2 separate regions of the Homo sapiens genome follow, and region 2 is linked to region 1. Evidence: fine-mapped expression QTL. A gene starts in region 1. The other region holds a variant in brackets. All regions are shown on one strand. Distances are between the middles of the regions.

Evidence for each region. PIP is the estimated chance that this variant, and not a neighbour inherited with it, causes the effect.
Region 2: its variant is fine-mapped to the expression of MAP6D1 in whole blood (TOPMed, PIP 0.97).

The regions. Positions count from the first base shown.
Region 1 is chr3:183,819,079-183,829,284 of GRCh38, forward strand. It overlaps MAP6D1 (MAP6 domain containing 1), which reads right to left and starts at 6,499. Exons shown (of 3, transcript NM_024871.4): 1 at 6,069-6,499. The coding sequence starts at 6,469. It overlaps PARL (presenilin associated rhomboid like), which reads right to left. Exons shown (of 10, transcript NM_018622.7): 10 at 10,193-10,206. RefSeq lists silencers at 6,077-6,206, 6,227-6,296, 6,357-6,706.
Region 2 is chr3:183,873,482-183,883,687 of GRCh38, forward strand. The region is part of intron 1 of PARL (presenilin associated rhomboid like); the gene reads right to left. Among named protein-coding and RNA genes, the nearest start is that of PARL, 6.3 kb to the right of the region's middle. The variant T/C (reference allele first, on the strand shown) is at 4,915.

The sequences.
Region 1 (10,206 bases):
CACGTGTGCGGAGTTGCTCCTGCCCAGGCTGGACACTGCCGGGGTTGGGCTTCAGGCCCTGAGGTCAACAAAGCTGCCTTTCTCCTTGGCAGCTGCAAAGCTGGGGCACCACTGGGCAGGCTGCGTGGGCAGGGAATGGCTGTGTCCATGGCCAGCACTGGGGTGCCAGGAGGAGAGCTAGGCCGGGGCCCCGTCAGGTAATTTTCACTCCCGAAGCCGCGAGCTTCTGAAGACCAGCTGCCCAAACCATATGCTGCTCTGTTCCTCCTGCGGAAGCAGGTCCTCCCCTGGGCGCGCCCTTCTGTCCCCAAAACACTTCACATGCCCACGCTGAGCCTTGGGCCTGGCATCCTGAGCCCGCTGCCCTGAGGTGGCTGCAGGGGTCTCAGAGCAGGAAGCCACCAGAGCCACAGACGACAGCAATCCTGGCGGCCGCCAGAGGAGGAACCCGGGGCTGGAGCCCAGATGGGAGAGGGGACCTTAAAGATGGAATGGGCAGGACCCGGTGACTGCCTGGAGAGAAAGAAAACAGACTCATGGCTCAGGCCAAGATTAGTAAGAAATACAGGCCTCCCTGCCTGCTGTGCCCCCATACAGTGCTCAAGCATGTTCCGGCATCAGCCCCGGACAGAGGATTGGGAGGCCTGGGTTCTCAGCCCAACATGGCTTCAGACACATTCCTCAACTTCCCTGAGCCTCAGTTTCTTCTGAAAAGTGGGGCTGCTGACCCATGTGCCTGAGGCTGTTGTGAGTCTTCGTTTCGGGCACTCAGTAAAGTGGGGCCAAGTCTTGTGGAACTTGAATATCAGCCCTTTAACTGCCCCACCTAGGCAGGAAGGAGGGAAGCAACCAGGGAGCAAGGACTGCCTTCCAGAAGTGGGCGGGGCTAGCAACTGGGCCAAAGATGCCCAATGGCCCAGAGAGAATTCAGAGGGGGCCTGTCAGGTGGAAGGAGCCAGGCTGGATGTGGGTAGGACCTGCTGTGCCCATGTGGCCAGGCAGGCAAGGCAGATCAACTCACGTGCAGACCAGAAGCCAGCAAGGCAGGTCCTGCAGGGGTGAAGAAGCTGAGGCCCGGGGATCCTGGGTACTCCCTCAAGAACCTTGAGTTAGGAGTGGCCTCACATCTTCAGGATTCCTGGCTCTGTTCGTTTCCTTGGCTTTCTGAATTTCTTAAGTTTGCTTAGATGATGTACATCTTACAAGACAAGGCTGGAGGGAGTGGCTTGTATCAGGTCCCAGAGCTGGAAGGTGGGGGTCCCAGAGGCCCACTGGCATGGCGCTGGGAGGGTCAAGTTCAACAGTGATCCTGTGTTTCTGCCCGAATTGGGGGCAGGGGTCCAGGCAGCCAAGCTCTTGCTATTCCTGCTTTTCGGATGAAGAAAGGGTCAGAGAGGCTGACCCAGCCAGGCGCGGTGGCTTAACGCCTGTAATCTCAGCACTTTGGGAGGGCAAGGCGGGCAGATCATGAGGTCAAGAGAACGAGACCATCCTGGCCAACATGGTGAAACCCCGTCTCTACTAAAAATACAAAAATTAGGCCAGGCACAGTGGCTCATGCCTGTAATCCCAGCACTTCAGGAGGCTGGGGCGGGCGGATCACGAGATCAGGAGATCGAGACCATCCTGGCTAACACGGTGAAACCCCGTCTCTAGTAAAAAAAAAAAATACATAAAAATTAGCCAGGCATGGTGGCGGGCGCCTGTAGTCCCAGCTACTCGGGAGGCTGAGGCAGGAGAATGGCGTGAACCCGGGAGGCGGAGGTTGCAGTGAGCCAAGGTTGCGCCACTGCACTCCAGCTTGGGCAACAAAGCAAGACTCCATCTCAAATAAATAAATAAATAATACAAAATAAAAATACAAAAATTAGCTGGGTGTGGTGGTGGGCGCCTGTAGTCCCAGCTACTCTGGAGGCTGAGGCAGGAGAATCGCTTGAACCCGGGAGGCGGAGGTTGCAGTGAGCCGAGATGGCGCCACTGCACTCCAGCCTGGTGACAGAGTGAGACTCCGTCTCAAAAAAAAAAAAAAGAAAAAAAGAGAGGCTGACCCACCTGAATTTACACACCAGGAGGTAAGAACCCCAACAAGCCCCGACTCCTGTCTGTCAAGGCTTTTCCACAGCTGGCCTCAGGACACAGTTCAAGAAAGCAAGTGACTCCAAGGAGGCAGCTCTTAAGGGATGAAAACCCATGGGGGCTACAAATTTGATCTCTGGGGCAAGTCACACGGGTTCCACTCCCTTCTCTGCCATTCAGAGCTGTGCCAGCCACTCAGTTTCCTTGTCTGTAGAATGGGGACGGCAAGCACTACACGAAGGCTGCAGGGGGCTAACCTCAGGGAGTGCTGAGCCTGGTGTGCGTTAAAGCAGAGAAGGCGACAGCTAGTACCTTCACCGTCACCAGAGCTGGGAGGGCCCGGCAGGACATTCACTCACCACATGTTCCACACAGATGAGGGATTGCTTTTTTTTTTTTTTTTTTTTTTGAGATGGAGTCTCGCTCTATTGCCCAGGCAGGAGTGCAGTGGCTCTATCTCGGCTCACTGCGTCCTCCACCTCCTGGGTTCAATGGATTCTCCTGCTTCAGCCTCCCGAGTAGCTGGGATTACAGGTGCGTGCCATCACGCCCAGCTAATTTTTAGTAGAGATGGGGTTTCACTATGTTGGCCAGGCTGGTCTCGAACTTGGGATCTGCCCATCTCATCCTCCCAAAGTGCTGGGGTTATAGGGGTGAGCCACCACGCCCGGCCTAATTTTTATATTTTTAGTAGAGACGGGGTTTCACCATGTTGGCCAGGATGGTCTTGAACTGACCTCAGGAGATCCGTCCATCTCGGCCTCCCAAAATGCTGGGATTACAGGTGTGAGCCACTGCGACCGGCCTCTTTTTAACTTTAAAATAAAAAAAAAGTAACTTCTGTGATAAGCATCCTTACAGCTAAATCTTTGTTCATATCATCATTTCTTTGGGATAAATTCCTAACTGTGGAATTAAAGAGCCAAAAAGTATGAACTTATCCCCCCAATTTTATTAGTTTTAAAAACCAAGCTGGGCACAGTGGCTGATGCCTTTAATTCCAGCACTTTGGGAGGCTGAGGCAGGAGGATCGCTTGAGCCCAGGAATTTGAGACCAGCCTGGGCAACATAAACCCCATCTCTAAAACACACACACACACACACACACACACACACACACACACACACACACACACACAAAACCCCACATGTAGTGCCCACCTGTGGTCTCAGCTACTCGGGAGGCTGAGGTGAGAAAATCACTTGAGCCTGGGAGGTTGAGGCTGCAGTGAACTGAGATCATGTCCCTGCACTCCAGCCTGGGCAACAGCAGCAACAACAACAAAACAAACAACAACAAAAAAACCCCCCAAAAACCCAACTGTATCAAGGCATTATTTCCAAACCATACAATTCATCCATTAAAAACATACAGCTGGATGACTTTTGACAAATGTAACCACTTGGGTACCACCACCATTATCAAGACACAAAGAACATTCCATGTCCCCAGGAGGAGGCTCCCTCATAGGTCGGCACTTTGTAAGGAACTCGCTGGGGGACAGTGGTTGCAGGGTGGGTCTTGCATTCACTGACACGTCCTCAAGCTGAGCCGCCAAAGCTGGAGTGGGCAACACTGAGCCGCAGCGCTCAGGCCCTAGACTAGCCAGCTGGAGGGGCCTGAATAGCGGAGAGTCTGGAAGGCCAGGGGTCCTGAGCGTGCAGCGCATTCCAGCGGCTGAAGTTCTAGGCACCAGAGCAGGGCAAGGGGTGGAGCTTGCAGGGAGACAGCTTCAGCTCCGGGAAGGAAGCGCTTTCTGTCAGTTACAACAGTCTGCCCATGGAGCGAGCTGACTTGCATGGCGCTGGGCTCCTCTTTACTAGGGATGTTCTAGCAGAGGCTTAGCTTTTATTTATTTGAAGCAAGGTCTTGCTCTGTTGCCTAGGTGGAGTGCAGTGGCACAAACACTGCTCACTGCAGCCTCGACCTCGCAGGCTTGAGGGATCCTCCCACCTCAGCCTCCCAAGTAGCTGGAATCACAGGCAGGCACCACCACGCCCAGCTAATTTTCTATTTTTTGTAGAGGCAGGGTCTCACTATGTTGCCCAGGCTGGTCTTGAACTCCTGGGCTCAAGTGATCCTCCCACCTAAGCTTCCCAAAGTGCTGGGATTACAGGTGTGAGCCACCATGCCTGGCTGGCTTAGCTTTTAGAAGGAGTCCCTCATCCGGGCATGGTGGCTCATGCCTGTAATCCCAGCACTTTGGGAGGCCGAGGCAGGCGGATCATGAGGTCAGGAGTTCAAGACCTGCCTGACCAACATGGTGAAACCCCATCTCTACTAAAAATACAAAAAATTAGCTGGGCGTGATGGCACACACCTATAATCCCAGCTACTCAGGAAGCTGAGGCAGAAGAATTGCTTGAACCTAGGAGGCGGAGGTTACAGTGAGCCAAGATGGCGCCACTGCTCTCCAGCCTGAGCGACAGAGCGAGACTCTGTCTCAAAAAAGAAAAAAATCAAAAATAAAAATAAAAATAAAAATTAACTGGGCATGGTGGCACAAGCCTGTAATCCCAGCTACTCGGGAGGCTGAGGCAGGAGAATTGCTGGAACCAGGGAGGCAGACATTGCAGTGAGCCGAGATTGCACCACTGCACTCCAGCCTGGGTGACAGAGCGAGACTCCGTCTCCAAAAAAAAAAGTTAAAAAGATAGGCAATACATGGACATGTTACAAAGGCAAAAAAAGCAATCGTTCAAAAGAGCAGAGTGAAAAGCCTTCCACCCCTGGCAGTCCCTATCAAGTTCCTCTCCCTAACGGTACCATCTCCTCAGACATCCATCAGGGCATCCTGTGCTTATTTGAGCATATGTGTGTATATTAATACCCCTTTTTAAAACACAAATAGCCTACGTGCTGCTGGGCACCTTGCTTTTTTGGTATGCGTATATTTAAGATCCGCTGGGTTTCAGTATCCCATTTCATGGCTGTGCTATAATTAACCAGTTCCCTACATCAGCAGGACAAGGGGTTTGTTGTACAATGTCTCCACCTATCTTACGCTCCTGAGCTCCCACCCTACCTTGTAGGATACCTGTAGGGAAAATTCCTAGTAGTGAAATAGCTGCATCAAAGGAAAAGTAGTGCTTTTAATAGTCCCACATTAGAAACACCCTAAATAGTCAATGGTAAGGAAGTAGATAAATAAAACTTGAAGATATAAAGGCATATCCATAGGATAAAATACTGCACGTTTATTAAAATTCATGTTGCAGAACATGTAGTAACACGGACAGACTTCTACAACTGGTGAAAAAAGTGTACAGTAAGAATCTAACCACGTAAAAATATATCAGTGCATATGCACCAAATGCACATTACGGAGTAGAAAGAACTCGTCTGGGGAGGGATCAAGGAGATACGTATTTTGTTGTAATTTCTGTACTTTCCCATTTTTCTACAGTATGAATTACTTTTGTGGTAAGAGGAAAAAAGGGAGAAAGCCCTCGGCTGTCCAGGAGCAGAGCTGGGCTGGGAGGTGGGGAGGGCCCGCGGACCCGTTCTCCCTGAAAGCCCCTGTCACAGTGGGACTCTGAAGGGCTCACCCACACGGGACCCTGCGCTCGGTCCTCACCACCAACGCCCGCACACTAGGCAGTGACCGGAGAGAGCTGGGGGACATGGCCTGCGCGCACCCCTCGCACGGCTAGGCCCGGCGGTGGGAGTTAAAGGGAGGCCGGTTCCAACTCGGCTGAAGGCAGGCCATTCTGACGGCTGCCCCCAGGAGGGCGGCTGCGAGGGCAGCGGTGCGCTCCCGGCACGGGGGTGCTCGAGCACTGAGTCCGGGCATGGAGCAGCGAAGGCGCCGCCTGCAGTGCCCACGGACCAAACGGGGGTGACCTCTGAGGCCGCCGGCAGCTCCGAGGTCGCGTGGGATCCGGGCTCCAGGCGCCTCCGCTCTGCCGCCCACCCCATCCCTCTGGCTCCGGGCCTCCGCGTCCTCCCACCACAGGGTGGGGACTCGTTGCGGTCCCTACCCAGCCCATACCTGTACGACGTGGTCACTGCTGCAGCCGCGTCCGCGTCGCCGATGGGCAGCACGTAGACCCCGCGGGCGCCGGGCGCAGGTGGCGCGGAGGACTGCGCGGAGGATTTGCCCCTGCGGCCGCCCGCCCCCGGTCCGCGCCCCGGCGGCGGATCCTTGGGCCCGGCGGGCGTGGTCCACAAGCCGAAGTCCCGCTGGTACTGAGTGAGCGGCACGTCCCGGCCGGAATCCCGGGCGCCCGCGGGAGGCTGGCCCCTGCGCGAGGCGGCGCCGCCCGTGCCCGGCTCCTCGCTGTCGAGGTCCGAGTAGCCGTGCAGAGTGAGCGGCACCGCCACGTCGGAGCGGTCCAGCTGGTTCCAGCGCCGCGCCAGGCAGCACAGGCGGCTGATACAGGGCCACGCCATGCCAGCCCCGGCGCCCGCCGCCCCGCTCCCGGCGCGCGGCGCTCCCGGCCGCGCCTCCTGCGCCCAGCGTCCCCGCCCCCGCGGCCCGCCCCGCGCCGCCGCAGCACCGCCCCCCGGCACGAGGGTGGGCGTCCCGGGAGGGGGCGCACTCGGCGGCAGCCCCACTTGGCCGGGGCCGGCTGCGCACGGCTGGAGCTGGAGGGAGCGCGGATGGGGGAAAGGCTGCACCGTCGCCAGGGGGCACCGGAAACCGCCTGCATTCATTTACAAGTGTCCATCTCGAAGAATGCCTCAGAATTGAATCCAAAGTTCCCTCAGTGTCATCTTATAAATGGCCCCGGCTTCGCAGAGGCCAAGGGCCCGATGGTCGCAGCTGGGAGCAGTCCGCCAGCCGGGAGGTTCTCCATGTGGCCTCGGGACGCCCAGCGACTGCTGCATTTGTGCCAGGCTGCACCGCATGGACTCCGCGGGCACAGGGGCAGGTGCAGCAATGAGGGTGTCAGAGAAGACTCGGGGCCCTGCTTCCCGGAGAACACGTGTTTCAGTCAGCCTGTGAGTCGCCGCCTATTTGCCTTTAGGATGCTAGTCTACATTTGTGACAACCAATCCACTTTTCATTAGAATTGGCATTAGCCACCAATCGACCTTTCCCTGGGTTCTGAAATTCCTAATTTTAAAGCATGGCCATTTGCAAAAGCTTTAGTTTGATAAAGCGGCCACAGAACTGGCCACAAGGCTATCAAGTTCCTTTCCTCCTGTGCATGCATGGCTGTTTTCAGGCAGAGCTGTTGAGGGATCCTCCAGCGTAAAGGCAGGTCTGTTCAATGCAGGACACCGTCTCAAACAACTCCCTGACCACCCACAAACGCTTTTCTGAATATTTGACACATGCTCTCGGTATACACTGCAGACCAATTACTAATAACACTACTGAGACAGCATTAATTACCCAGAGCTCCATTTCAAGGTTGTACTTGGAAGGTATCCAGTCTGCGCCTGGGAGGGGACTGCAGCACATCCCTGGCCAGTCAGAAAACAGATTCATCTCCCAAAACATTGCCTGTCTTAGCTTGAAGTTGTAGCAAAGTGACATGACGGCTGCCTAGAAGTGGCAGCAGGTCAGCTGAGCAGGCCAGGCCATGTCCCAGCAGGCAGCAGGCGAGGCGCCAGGTGTAGAGGGAGATCCTGGAAAATGACACACAGGGGCCGGGTCAGAGTGAACTCTTTGTGGACTGTCCGCCACGGCCCTGGGTTAGCCAGCCTGGCAGATGGCGCTTGGGACTAAAATTCTCCATCTCGCAGGAAAAGAGAGCAGCTCTCTTTTTATTACTTCATTGATCAAACAACAGTCAAAGAGCAGTTGCTATGTGCTAGGAATAATTCTGGGTGCCTTCAGGAGGTTTAGTGTGGTAGTGAGGGACGGAAGGAAGTGTAATTGAACTGACAAGGCCAGGTCAGCATGAGAGGGAGGCAGGCTGGGGAAAGCTGGACTCGCCACCTGTTGTGAGGGAGGGTGGTTGGGCCAGGTGGGAATGTAGGTCACGGGGGAGGAGGGTTCAGCTGAGGTAGCAGACCATGGAGGGTCTTGGTGGCCACACTAAGGAATTTTAGCTTTTCATATGGCCGGGTGCAGATGGCTCATGCGTGGAATCCCAGCACTTTGGGAGGCTGAGGCAAGAGGACTGCTTGAGCCCAGGAGTTTGAGAACTGCCTGGGCAACACAGTGAGACCCTGTCTCTACAAAAAACTTTTAAAAATTAGCCAGGCGTGGTAGTGTGTGCCTGCAGTGCCAGCTACTTGGAGGCTGAGGCTTGAGCCCAGGACTTCAAGGCTACAGTGAGCTATGATTGCACCACTGAACTCCAGCCTGGACGAGAGAGAGAGAGAGAGACCCTGTCTCAAATAAATAAAAGTTTTTCACAGGTGACAACAAAGGAATGACAGACATGTTTTTAGCACTCTGGCAGGCATATGGAGAAGCACAGGGTTGCTTTGGAGACCAGCTGGAAGAACAGGCTCAACAGTCCAGGGACTAAGAAGTGAGGACCACCACGGAGTCACAGGCACTGGGAAGGCTGAGGGGCTGAATTCTAGAAATAAGAGGCGAGAGAGGGAGATCTCGAATGGCTCCGGGTTTCAGACTTCACCGATTGCTCGTGTCACTCCTTAAGCCGAGTGCTATTTGAGGGGCCTGTGCAGGGCGGGGGGGTGGTCCCAGAGCCTGGAACCATGCGTGTGTTGCAGTAGACACATTTACTAAGAGTACAGAGAGATTCTGTGGGTCTGGAGCTCAGAATCCTCACAGATAACTGAGGCTTCAGCAAGTGCACCCACTCAAGAAGTGTATGGAATGAGGGAGACGGCAGCCACGGCATGTTCCTAGGTACCCCACACTTCAGATGCCAGTGGAGGCGGCACAGCCCAAGAGGCCCACGGGCCAGGGAGTGCATGGCCTTGAAGGCAGTGATCGCGGGTCCCCAGAGAAGCCAAGAGGAGAAAGTGAAGCACCCTCGTGGGCAATCAGGAGGGAGCTGTGGACAGCAAGGCTTCTCCGGCCACAGCCAGGTTCTGGCCTCCCCAGGCCATGCACAGAGGCTCCAGCATTGAGGGGTTTTAGGGACCAGGAGATGCTACAGGGACTTCTAACTTTTTCCCAGTCACAAAGCAGGGACACAGAGATGTCTTCATTGCCTCTTTGCCTGGTCTGCCCAAAGCACGATGTGAATTAATGTTGGGCTCTAGAGGGAATGTCCCTATGAACTCAGCCTCCTATCCCATCTCTGGAAAACGCATCTTGCCTCATCTGTGTTGCAGAGTTGTTAGCAGATGTCAGAGCAAAGCATTGTGACCTTGGGCAGTGCCCCTACACCACGTGTGCCGTTTCCTCGCTGGCAAAATGATGGCTAAGATAACTCTCTCCCCTAGAAGTGATACGAGTTTAGAACAGAATCCTGTGCCTGGGAAGAATAACTGTAAATCATAGTAGAAACAAGTCCAGCCTGATGGAAGAAGGATATGAAGGACTGCCAAATACTGGACAATTTCTATGTGCTGGGCGCGTGCTGCCATGCAGTTCTCACTTGCCTGGTGAGGTGGGCACCACTCCCACTCCTTTTCCAAAGCCGCCATTCCCATCCCCCACGGCACACAACCTGAGTCCGATCGGCCACAGGAGGCTGAAATCAGGGCCTTCGATCCTCCCAGGACAAAGCTGCAAGACTTGGTATAACATTTTGAAGCCATCAAAAGACTAAAAATTCTCCTGTAAATGACTTCAAGAAGAACATACTCTCAAACTGCATTTCCTAGATGTCATTCTCAGTCACGAGGGTAACATGAATTCCACAACAGTGAGGCTGTGACGACGACAGCCACTATCTGCTATTTCAGTGAGACGCTTCAATTAGAACACTTTCAAACAGAAGATAAAATTCGGCTCAGATTCAAGTCTGAATTTACCCAAATCACTTCTTTCTACCTCTTAATTTATCTACAAATTGAACCTAGAAAGCAAAACCTGAAAATAGCTTTTTGTATATGCCACTCACTGCCAGAAAACACTACCTTTCCTGAAAATTGAGAAAATACTGCAGCTGTTATTTCAGATTGTGCTGGAGAGGGGATACTCTCGACTTTTATGTGCAGCCAACCCAGGGGAGGGGGAGGCAAGGAAGAGTGAAGGCTAAGCAGAGGCACTGGAGGGTCCAAAGACAGGCAACCAGCGCCTTCATGTTCTG
Region 2 (10,206 bases), 54 kb after region 1:
TGAGGCGAGATCACGCCATTGCACTCCAGTGTGAGAGCTCCTGAGTGACAGAGCAAGACTCCGTCTCAAAAAAAAAAAAATTAATTAATTAATTAAAGATGGCAAGTTGTAACCCAGTAATCTTGGTTCCTAGCATTTGTCATGTACTGGACTGAGAAATACAAAGGATAAGAAATACAAAGGATTTGTATTTCCAACAGCTTAATACTACACAATCAATTCTAATAAAAAACTACTTCTACCTGTCACCAATTCACTTAAAATTTTGAAGCACAAGTTTTAAAAGGAACATAAACACGCTAGGTTGGGAATCTGGACTTGAGGCAAAGCCAGACCTTTTTGCCTAAAATATATACCTCGAGGATCTCACCAGAAGTGTGCATCAAGCTGAGGACATTAAGAGTACATTACACAAGCTGGCCCCAGGGTTAAGTTCAGAACTTATCAGTAGGTACACATACTGAATACATCACACACAGGCATACCTCGATTTATTGTACTTCACAGATATCCCAAGTTTGTTACACAAATTGAAGGTTTGTGGCAACCATACATCTAGCATGTCTTTTGGCACCATTTTTCCAACAGCATGCGCTCACTTGGTGGCTCTGTGTCACATTTCCGTAATTCTCACAACACTTCAATTTTTTCTTATCTGTTATGGTGATTTGTGATCAGTGACCTTTGATGTTACTACTGAAATTGTTTTGGGTGCCATGAACCATGAGACAATGAACTTAATAATGTTGTGTAGGTTCTGACTGCTCTACCAACCAGCCATTGCCCACCTTTCCCTCTCTTTGGACCCCCCTATTCCTTGGAACACAACAATATTGACACTGGTCAATTAATAACCCTACAATCACCGCTAAGTGTTCAAGCTGAAAGGAACAGTCACATGTCTCTGGCTTGAAATCATTAGAAATAATCTTTTTTTTTTTTTTTGAGATGGAGTTTTGCTCTATCACCCAGGCTGCAGTGCAGTGGCGCGATCTCGACTCACTGCAACCTCCACCTCTCGGGTGCAAGCGATTCTCCTGCCTCAGCCTCCCAAGTAGCTGGGACTACAAGCACCTGCCACCACACCGAGCTGATTTTTGTATTTTTAGCAGAGATGGGGTTTCGCCATGTTGGCCAGGCTGGTCTCGAACTCAAACCTCACGTGATCCTCCCGCTTCGGCCTCCCAAAGTGCCCAGCCAATTAGAAATAATTAAGCTTAGTGAAGAAGGCATGTCAAAAGCTGAGATAGGCCAGGAGCTAAGCCTCTGGCACAAATAGCCAACTTGTAAATACAAAGAAACAATTCTTGCCAGACATGGTGGCTCACAGCTGTAACCCCAGCACTTTGGGAAGCTAAGGCAGGAAGATCACTTGAGTTCAGGAGTTTGAAACCAACCTGGGCACCATAGTGAGATCCTGTCTCTATAAAAAATTTAAAAATTAGCCAAGTGTGGTGGCTTGCGCCTATAGTACTAGCTACTTGGGAGGCTGAGGCAGGAAGATCACTTGAGCCCAGGAGGTCAAGGTTGCAGTGAGCTACAAATGCATTGCTGCACTCCAACCTGGATGACAGAACTAGACTCTGTATCAACAACAGCAAAACTACTGAAGGAAATTTTAAGTGCTACTCCTGAGAAGAGAAAAATAGTAGGCTGGGTGTGGTGGCTCCCATCTGTAATCCTAGAACTTTGGGAGACCAAGACGAGAGGATCAACTGAGGTCAGGAGTTCGAGACCAGCCTGGCCAACAATGTGAAACTCCATCTCTACTAAAAATACAAGAATTACCTGGGCGTGGTGGCGGGCGACTGTAATCCCAGCCACTGGGGAGGTTGAGGCAGGAGAATCGCTTGAACCTGGGAGATGGAGGCTGCAGTGAGCTGAGATTGTGCCACTGCACTCCAGCCTGGGCGACAGAGCAAGACTCTGTCTCCAAAAAAAAAAAAAAAAAAAAAAATAGAGTAAGAAAGCAAAACAGCCTTATTGCCAACATGGAAAAAATTACATGAATAGAAGATCAAATCAGCCACAACATTCCCTTAAGCCACAGCCAATCTAGAGCAAGACTAACTCCTTCAATTCTATGAAGGCTGAAAGAATTGAGGAAGCTGCAGGAAAAAAGTCTGAAGCTAGCAGAGGTTGGTTCATGAGGTTTAAGGAAACAAGCTGTCTCTATAACACACAAGTACAACTTGAAGCAGCAAGTGTGGATGTAGAAACTGCAGCAACTTATCAAGAAGATCCTAAGATGAAGGTGGCTACACTAAACAGATTTGCAAAGCAGACAAAACAGCCTTCTATTGGAAGAAGATGCCATCTAAGACTTTCATAGCTACAGGTGAGGAGGCAATGCCTGGCTTCAAAGCTTCAAAGGACAGGCTGACTTCATTAGGCACTAATGCTGTTGGTGACTAAGTTGAAGCCAATGCTCATTTACCATTCTGAGAATCCTAGAACCCTTAAGAATGATGGTAAACTACTCTGCCCGTGCTCTACAAATCGAACAACAAAGCCTAGATTACAGCACTCCTGTTTACAGCATCGTTTATGGAATATTTTTTATTTGTTTATTTTTACTTTTTGAGATGGAGTCTCACTCTGTCGCCCAGGCTGGAAGTACAGTGGCACTATCTCAGCTCACTACAACCTCCGCCTCCCAGGTTCAAGCAGTTCTCCTGCCTCAACCCTCCGAGCAGCTGGGATCACAGGCGCCTGCCATCATGTCCGGCTAATTTTTGTGTTTTTAGTAGAGATGGGGTTTCACCGTGTTGGCCAGGGTGGTCTTGAACTCCTGATCTCAGGCGATCCGCCCGTGTTGGCCTCCCACAGTGCTGGTATTATAGGCGCAATCCACTGTGCCCAAACGGTTTACCAAATATTTTAAGCCCAATGTTGCGACCAAATGCTGAGAAAAAAAGATTCCTTTCAAAATACTACTGTTCATCGACAATGTATCTGGTCACCCAAGAGCTCAGATGCACAGGTACAAGAAGATGAATATTGTTTTCATGCCTGCTAACACAATGTCCATTCTGCAACCACATACATCAAGCAGGAATTTCAACGTTTAAGTCTTATTATTTAAGAAATATATTTTCTTTTTTTATTCCCCTAAGAAATACATTTTGTAAAAAAAAAAAAAAAAAAAAAAAAAAAAGAAAAAGAAAAAGAAAGAAAGAAAGAAAGAAAAAGAAATATATTTTGTAAGGCAATAGCCACAGAGTGATTTTTCTGATGGATCTGGGCAAGGTAAACTGAAAAGCTTCTGGAAAGGATCTACCATTCTAGATGTCATCGGGAACACTCATGATTCATGAGAGGAGGTCAAAATACCAACATTAACAGTTTAGAAGAAGTTGATTACAACACTCAAGTATGACTTTGAGGGGCTCAAGACTTGAGTGGAGGAAGTAACTGCAGATGCGGTAGAAATAGAAAGAGAACTAGAGGCTGGGTGCAGTGGCTCATGCCTGTAATCCCAGTACCCTGGGAGGCCGAGGCGGGCGGATCACCTGAGGTCAGGAGTTCGAGACCAGCCTGGCCAACATGGTGAAACCTCATCTTTATTAAAAATTCAAAAAAATTAACTGGGCATGGTGGTGGGTGCCTGTAATCCCAGCTACTCAGGAGGCTGAGGCAGGAGAATCGCTTGAACTAAGGAGGCAGAGGTTGCAGTGAGCCAAGATCGTGCCATTGCACTTCAGTCTGGGTGACAGGAGTGAAACTCCATCTCGAAAAAAAAGAAAGAGCAAGAGAACTAGAATTAGAAGTGGAGCCTGAAGATGTGATTGAATTGCTGCAATCTCATGATCAAACTTGAACAGATGAGAAGTTGTTTCTTATGGATGAGCAAAGGAAGTGGTTTCTTGAGATGGAATCTACTCCTGGTGAAGACACTGTGGACACTGTTGAAATGACAACAAAGGATTTAGATTACATAAACCTAGCTGATAAAGCAGCAGCACGGTTTGAGAGGATTTACTCCTACTCTGAAAGAAGTTCTACTGTGGATAAAATGCTATCAGACAGCATCACATGCTACTGAGAAATCTTTTGTGAAAGGAGGAGTCAATCAACGTGGCGAACTTCATGTTGTCTTATTTTAAGAAATTGCCACCGCTACCCCAACCTTCAGTAACCGCCACTCTGATCAGTCCACAGCCATCAACAGAGGCAAGACCCTCCACCAGCAAAAAGATTATGACTCACTGCAGGCTCAGATGATTATTAGAATTTTTTAGTAATAAAGCATTTTAAAATTAAGGTATCTACATCTTAACAAACCACTCTAAAATGCACTGGCTTAAAACCATAATTTATTACTTTTTTTTTTTTTTGAGACAGTGTCACCCAGGCTGGAGCGCAGTGGCATGATCTCGGCTCACTGCAATCTCCACCTCCCAGGTACAAGCAATTCTCCTGTCTCAGCCTCCTGAGTAGCTGGGACTCCAGGCACACACCAGCACACCTGGCTAATTTTTGTATTTTTAGTAGAGATGGGGTTTCATCATATTGGTCAGGCCGGTCTCGAACTCCTGAGCTCAAGTGATCCACCCGCCTTGGTCTCCCAAAGTGCTGGGATTACAGGCGTGAGCCACCGCGCCCAGCCCCAGCCAGTACTCTTGACTGCTTAATCAGAGCTGGAGAGTCTCAGATGGCTTCACTCGTACCTGGAGCCTTAGTGCTGGTTGTTGTCTGCTTGCTCTTTCACCGCCCAGTCCTTGGTGTTCAGTAGTCTAGCGGGGGCTTCTACCATGACAGAGGGAGTGTTCCAAGTGGGCAAAGGCAAAAGCTGCAAGGTCTTCTGAGGCCGACTCTGGACCTTGCACAATATTACTTCCACCACATGCTACCGATCAAACTAAGCCGCAAGTCCAACCCAGCTGCAAGGAATAGGGAAGTTGACTCCAGCTT[T/C]GGATAAGAACTACAAAATATTGTGGCCATGGTGTTTTATCTACCACACTAGATGTGGCAGAGGCAGTTATGCTTCCTAGTCTAGAGCAGTAATTCTCAATTCTGGCTATACATTAGAACTGCCTGGTGAGCTCTTAAAAGTCCTACACCATGGCTCTACCTCATAACAAATGAGAATGTCTAGGAGTGGACCCAAGGCCTTAGTAGTTGTAAGACCTCCCCAGGTGATTCTCATGTGCCGCCAGAGTCAAGATCTATTCATACCACAGGTTTGGGGAAACTTTAGTTTACATACAAATCACCTGGAAATCTCATTAAAAACATTGTAATTTAGTAGGTCTGGGGCAAGGTGAGTCTGAGATTTTGCATATCTAAACAAGCGCCTAAATTAGGGGTTGTCAAACTGCGGCCTATAGAGTGGATTTGAGTCTCCAACTAAGAATGGTTTTCACACGTTTAAAGAGTTGTTTAAAAAGAAAGAGAAAGAATATGCGACAAAGACCACATGCGGCCATATTTTCTATCTGACCTTTTACAAACTAAGTTTGCCAAACCCCTGTCCTAGATGATACCCAAACTGCTAGTTCATGAACCACTTGGAATAGCAAGGAGCTAGAACCTGATTCCTCACTCTTCCAACAATACTTGTACTTAAATTAGAATGGTTTGTTGTCCCACAGATTAATCCTATCTAGGTAACCAAATAAAGAATTCCAATACAAATGTTTCACTACGACTTACTCCCAGCATCCATGCCCTCTTCTCCTTTTCCAAACCATACTCTAGAATTTCCAGCCATTTCATTTGATGAGACACACCAAGCCCACGATTGGCTTAAGCCAAATTTCACATCCCATTCCTTGGCAACTTCAAGGGATTCAAGGATGGGCACCTGTCCCAAGTTAGGCCAATCTGGTCCAGTGAAATTCAATTTCAAGATTTTGTTTGTGATAACGGAGAAGACAACTTTTTTTTCTGCTAGATTTGCACCTAAAAATATATAGCCCCAAGAGCTGCTGGCAGCCATCTTATAACCACAAGGAGATAGCATGCTGAGAGAATAAAGCCAACATTTAGGAAACAGAGACAAGCCATGGAGAAAATGGTGTCTGGTGACAATTTGAGACACTGGACTTGTCTCGCTAGAAGCCAGTCCTACCTCTACACTTTTGAACTTCATAAACCAATAAATTCCCCTAATTGTTTAGGTCAGTTAAGAGTTTGGTTTTCTATTGGAATAAGGATGCTTTTAGATGTAGTATGTTTATTACATATTATATAAGGTACATTTTCTCTTTTTAATGAGCTTTCATTTTAAATTTCCTTTTTTTGGTGGGCGGGGGGAGGTCCTCGCTCTGTCACCCAGGCTGGAGTGCAGTGGCACCATCTCAACTCACTGCAACCTTCGCCTCTAGAGTTCAAGTGATTCCCCTGCCTCAGCCTCCCAAGTAGCTGGGATTACAGATGCCTGCCACCAGGACTGATTTTTTTTTTTTTTTTTTTTTTTGTATTTTTAGTAGAGACAGGGTTTCGCCATATTGGCCAGGCTGGTCTCGAACTCCTGACCTCAGGTGATCTGCCTGCCTCGGCCTCCCAAAGTGCTCCCAAAGGATTACAGGAGTGAGCCACTGCACCCAGCCTTAAATTTCTTAAAGTGTGAAACAAGCAAAAGCATGATAAATGTCCCTAATTGCAAATGTTTGCTATCTTATTCACAGGTTTAGGTTATTCACCTCTTCCCAATCAGATGGGTATATAAGACAGGGAAATAAATTACTTACCTGAATAAGTTGGAAAACAAAGTGAAGCGCCGCAATAAAATGGATGGGGATGGGAAAGAGGGTCCCTTGAGGCATATGACAACTCACGACAGCAGGCCTGCCTTGACTCTGCTGCTTTGGTCCTTCTGCCAGGAACTAGTGATTTGGGGAAGCAATCAAATGTGCTCAAAGTGGGAGGATGTCATGAATACTTAAGTTGCCACCAGCCACAGTTATAGTTCAGTTTTTTTTTTTCCGTTTTTAAGACACAGTTTTGCTCCTGCTGCCCAGGTTGGAGTGTAATGCCGTGATCTCGGCTCACTGCAACCTCCGCTTCCCGGGTTCAGGCGATTCTCCTTCCTCAGCCTCCCAAGTAGCTGAGATTACAGGCGCCTGCCACCACACCTGGCTAATTTTTGTGTTTTTAGTAGAGAGGGGGTTTCACCACGTTGGCCAGGGTGGTCTCGAACTCCTGACCTCAGGTGATCCACCCACCTCAGCCTCCCAAAGTGCTGGGATTACAGGCATGAGCCACTGTGCCTGGCCAGCTCAGACTTTTTTTTTAATACAATCCTATAACTTTTAAGAAGAAAAAGTTACACCAATATATGTGTTCACCTAATAGTTACAATACAGTCTCATAAATGTTTTGGTTTTTTATTTTTTGGGTCTTTTTTTGAGACAGGGTTGCACTCTCTCACTCAGGCTGGAGGACAGTGGCGCCCTCATAGCTCACAGCAACCTTCACCTTCCGGCCTCAAGCAATCCTCCTCCCTTAGCCTCCCACGTGGCTGGGACCAGAGGCAGCACCACCATACCCACTAATTTTTTTTACTTTTTGTAGAGACAGGAGTCTCCCTATATTGCCCAGGCTGGTCTCAAACTCCTAGACTCAAGTGATCTTCCTGCCTCAGCCTCCCAAAGTGCTGGGACTGCAGGCCTGTGCCACCGCACAGCCTTTGTGCATTTTTTTTTTTTTTTTTCAGATGAAGTCTTGCTCTTGTCCCCCAGGCTGGAGTACAGTGATGCAATCTCGGCTCACTGCAACCTCTGCCTCCTGGGTTCAAGGGATTCTCCTGCCTCGGCCCCCCGAGTAGCTGGGATTACAGGCCCCTGCCACCGTGCCTGGCTAATTTTTGTATTTTTAGTAGAGACGGGTTTTCACCATGTTGGCCAGGCTGGTCTAGAACTCCTGACCTCAGGTGATCCACCCGCCTCGGCCTCCCAAAGTGCTGGGATTACAGGCGTGAGCCACTATGCCCAGCCTGTGCATTGTTTTTAAGAGTGCAACGGTAAAGACAATACAACTTAAATATACAGGTCAGTGTTAATGTTTATGTTACTCAAGATTTGTATGAACAAATTAAGTAGAAATGGCCTAATGTTCAAATGGAGACAAAATGTGTCTAAGCACACACAATTGATTAGATTCATTCCACTTAAAACAAAATAGAGCCCGAGGCATGGTAGTGTGTACCTGTAGTCCTTGCTACCAGGCAGGCTGACGCAGGGGGATCCCTTGAACCCAGGAGTTTGAGGCTGCAGTGAGCTATGATAGTGCCACTGCACTTCAACCTAGGTGACAGAACAACTCGCCTCTAAAAAATACAAAAGATACTGGGCGGGAGGATGGATTCTACATAAACTCTGGCATAACAAAATTATTTTCTTGACCCCATCGTGAGTTAATAGATGGTCAGTTAAAACAAAATATAATATATACGATTGACTAATATGTCAAGTATCTTACTTAAAGATATTTTGAGGCTAGGCATGGTGACTCAAGCCTGTAATCCCAACACTGGGAGGCAGAGGCAGGCAGATCACTTGAGACCAGGAGTTCGAGACCAGCCTGGCCAACACAGCAAAACCCCGTCTCTACAAAAAACACAAAACTTAGCTAGGCATCATGGTGGTGCATGCCTGTAATCCCAGCTACTCGGGAGGCTGAGGCAGGAGAATCGCTTGAACCCGGGAGGCGGAAGTTGCAGTGAGCTGAGATCGTGCCACTGCACTCCAGCCTGGGAAACAGAGCAAGACAATGTCTCTAAAAAAAAAAAAAAAAAAATATATATATATATATATATATTTATATATATATATATATATATATTTATATATATATATACACACACACATATATATACACACACATATATACACACATATATACACATATATACACACACATATATACATATATGCACATATATACACACACATATATACATATATATGCACATATACACACACATATATATAGAGAGAGAGAGAGAGAGAAAGAGAGAGACTATCATCTCAATATAAACTTTCCATACAAACGGCAAGTTTTTTAAAAATATAAAATGTTAAGTGTTACAATTCAACTATTTTCTTCCCTTGGATAGTTTCATATAACTGGCAAATTAAACAGGTTTCCACTTTCAAGCCTCAAACCTTGGTAACAGTAAAGTTTACAAGGAGCCCAAATAAGATTTTTTTCCCCTTTTGTGTAAAAGGCCAGATAGAAGATATTTCGGTCTTTGTGGACTACTGAAATCTGTCACATATTACTATTTTTGTTTTACAATCCTTTAAAAATGTAAACCATTCTTGGCTGGTGGGCCGCCTTGGGCCTGCAGTAGTTTTCAGACCCTAGTATCACCACCTAGAGTGCTTGTAAAATGCAAATTCCTGGTCCCACTTCAGGCCTATTATTAATACATCAAATGACACGGATTGGGTCATTCTTCTGCACGCTAATTTCAAAGCCATAAGAAGTCAACATATAGCTAATAAAGGTTATATATAAGGTAAACTGATACTATTAACTTTAAGAACTTATTACCAGAGGCAAATGCTCTATTTCAGGCCTACATTCTCATGTATATTTTTTATGCAACCACGAAAATGTCATTTTCAAACTTTCTATACAAATGGCAAGCTTTTCAGACATTAAATACTAATCTTCAACATTTCATGTGTTTCTGGTTCACTGTTTCAAATGGTCTTTATACTCAATTTTTACTAGAGGCTCATTAGTTTTCTTTTGCTTCCCCTTCCTAAAACCAATACGGTGATGTGTACATAAATCTTAAATGTTTAACACACTTCCTGTTGCTTCCTAATACACGTACAGTATTTATTTATTTTACATGGAGTCTCACTCTGTTGCTCAAGATGAAGTGCAATGGCACGATCTCGGCTCACTGCAACCTCCGCCTCCCAGGTTCAAGCCATTCTCCTGCCTCAGGCTCCCGAGTAGCTGGGATTACAGGCGCCCGCCACCATGCCCCGCTAATTTCTTGTATTTTTAGTAGAGACGGGGTTTTGCAATGTTGGCCAGGCTGGTCTTGAACTCCTAACTTCAGGTGATCCACCTGCCTCAGCCTCCCAAAGTGCTAGGATTACAGGCGTGTGAGCCACCACGCCCGGCCAGTATTAATCTTTTCTTTCCCCCTTAAACCATGCAATCTCAAATGGGATTACCACCTCCATCTGTCCTCATTTTCCACCTCCCCAGGAGTTTAAGATTAGTGCCTGACAGATCTAT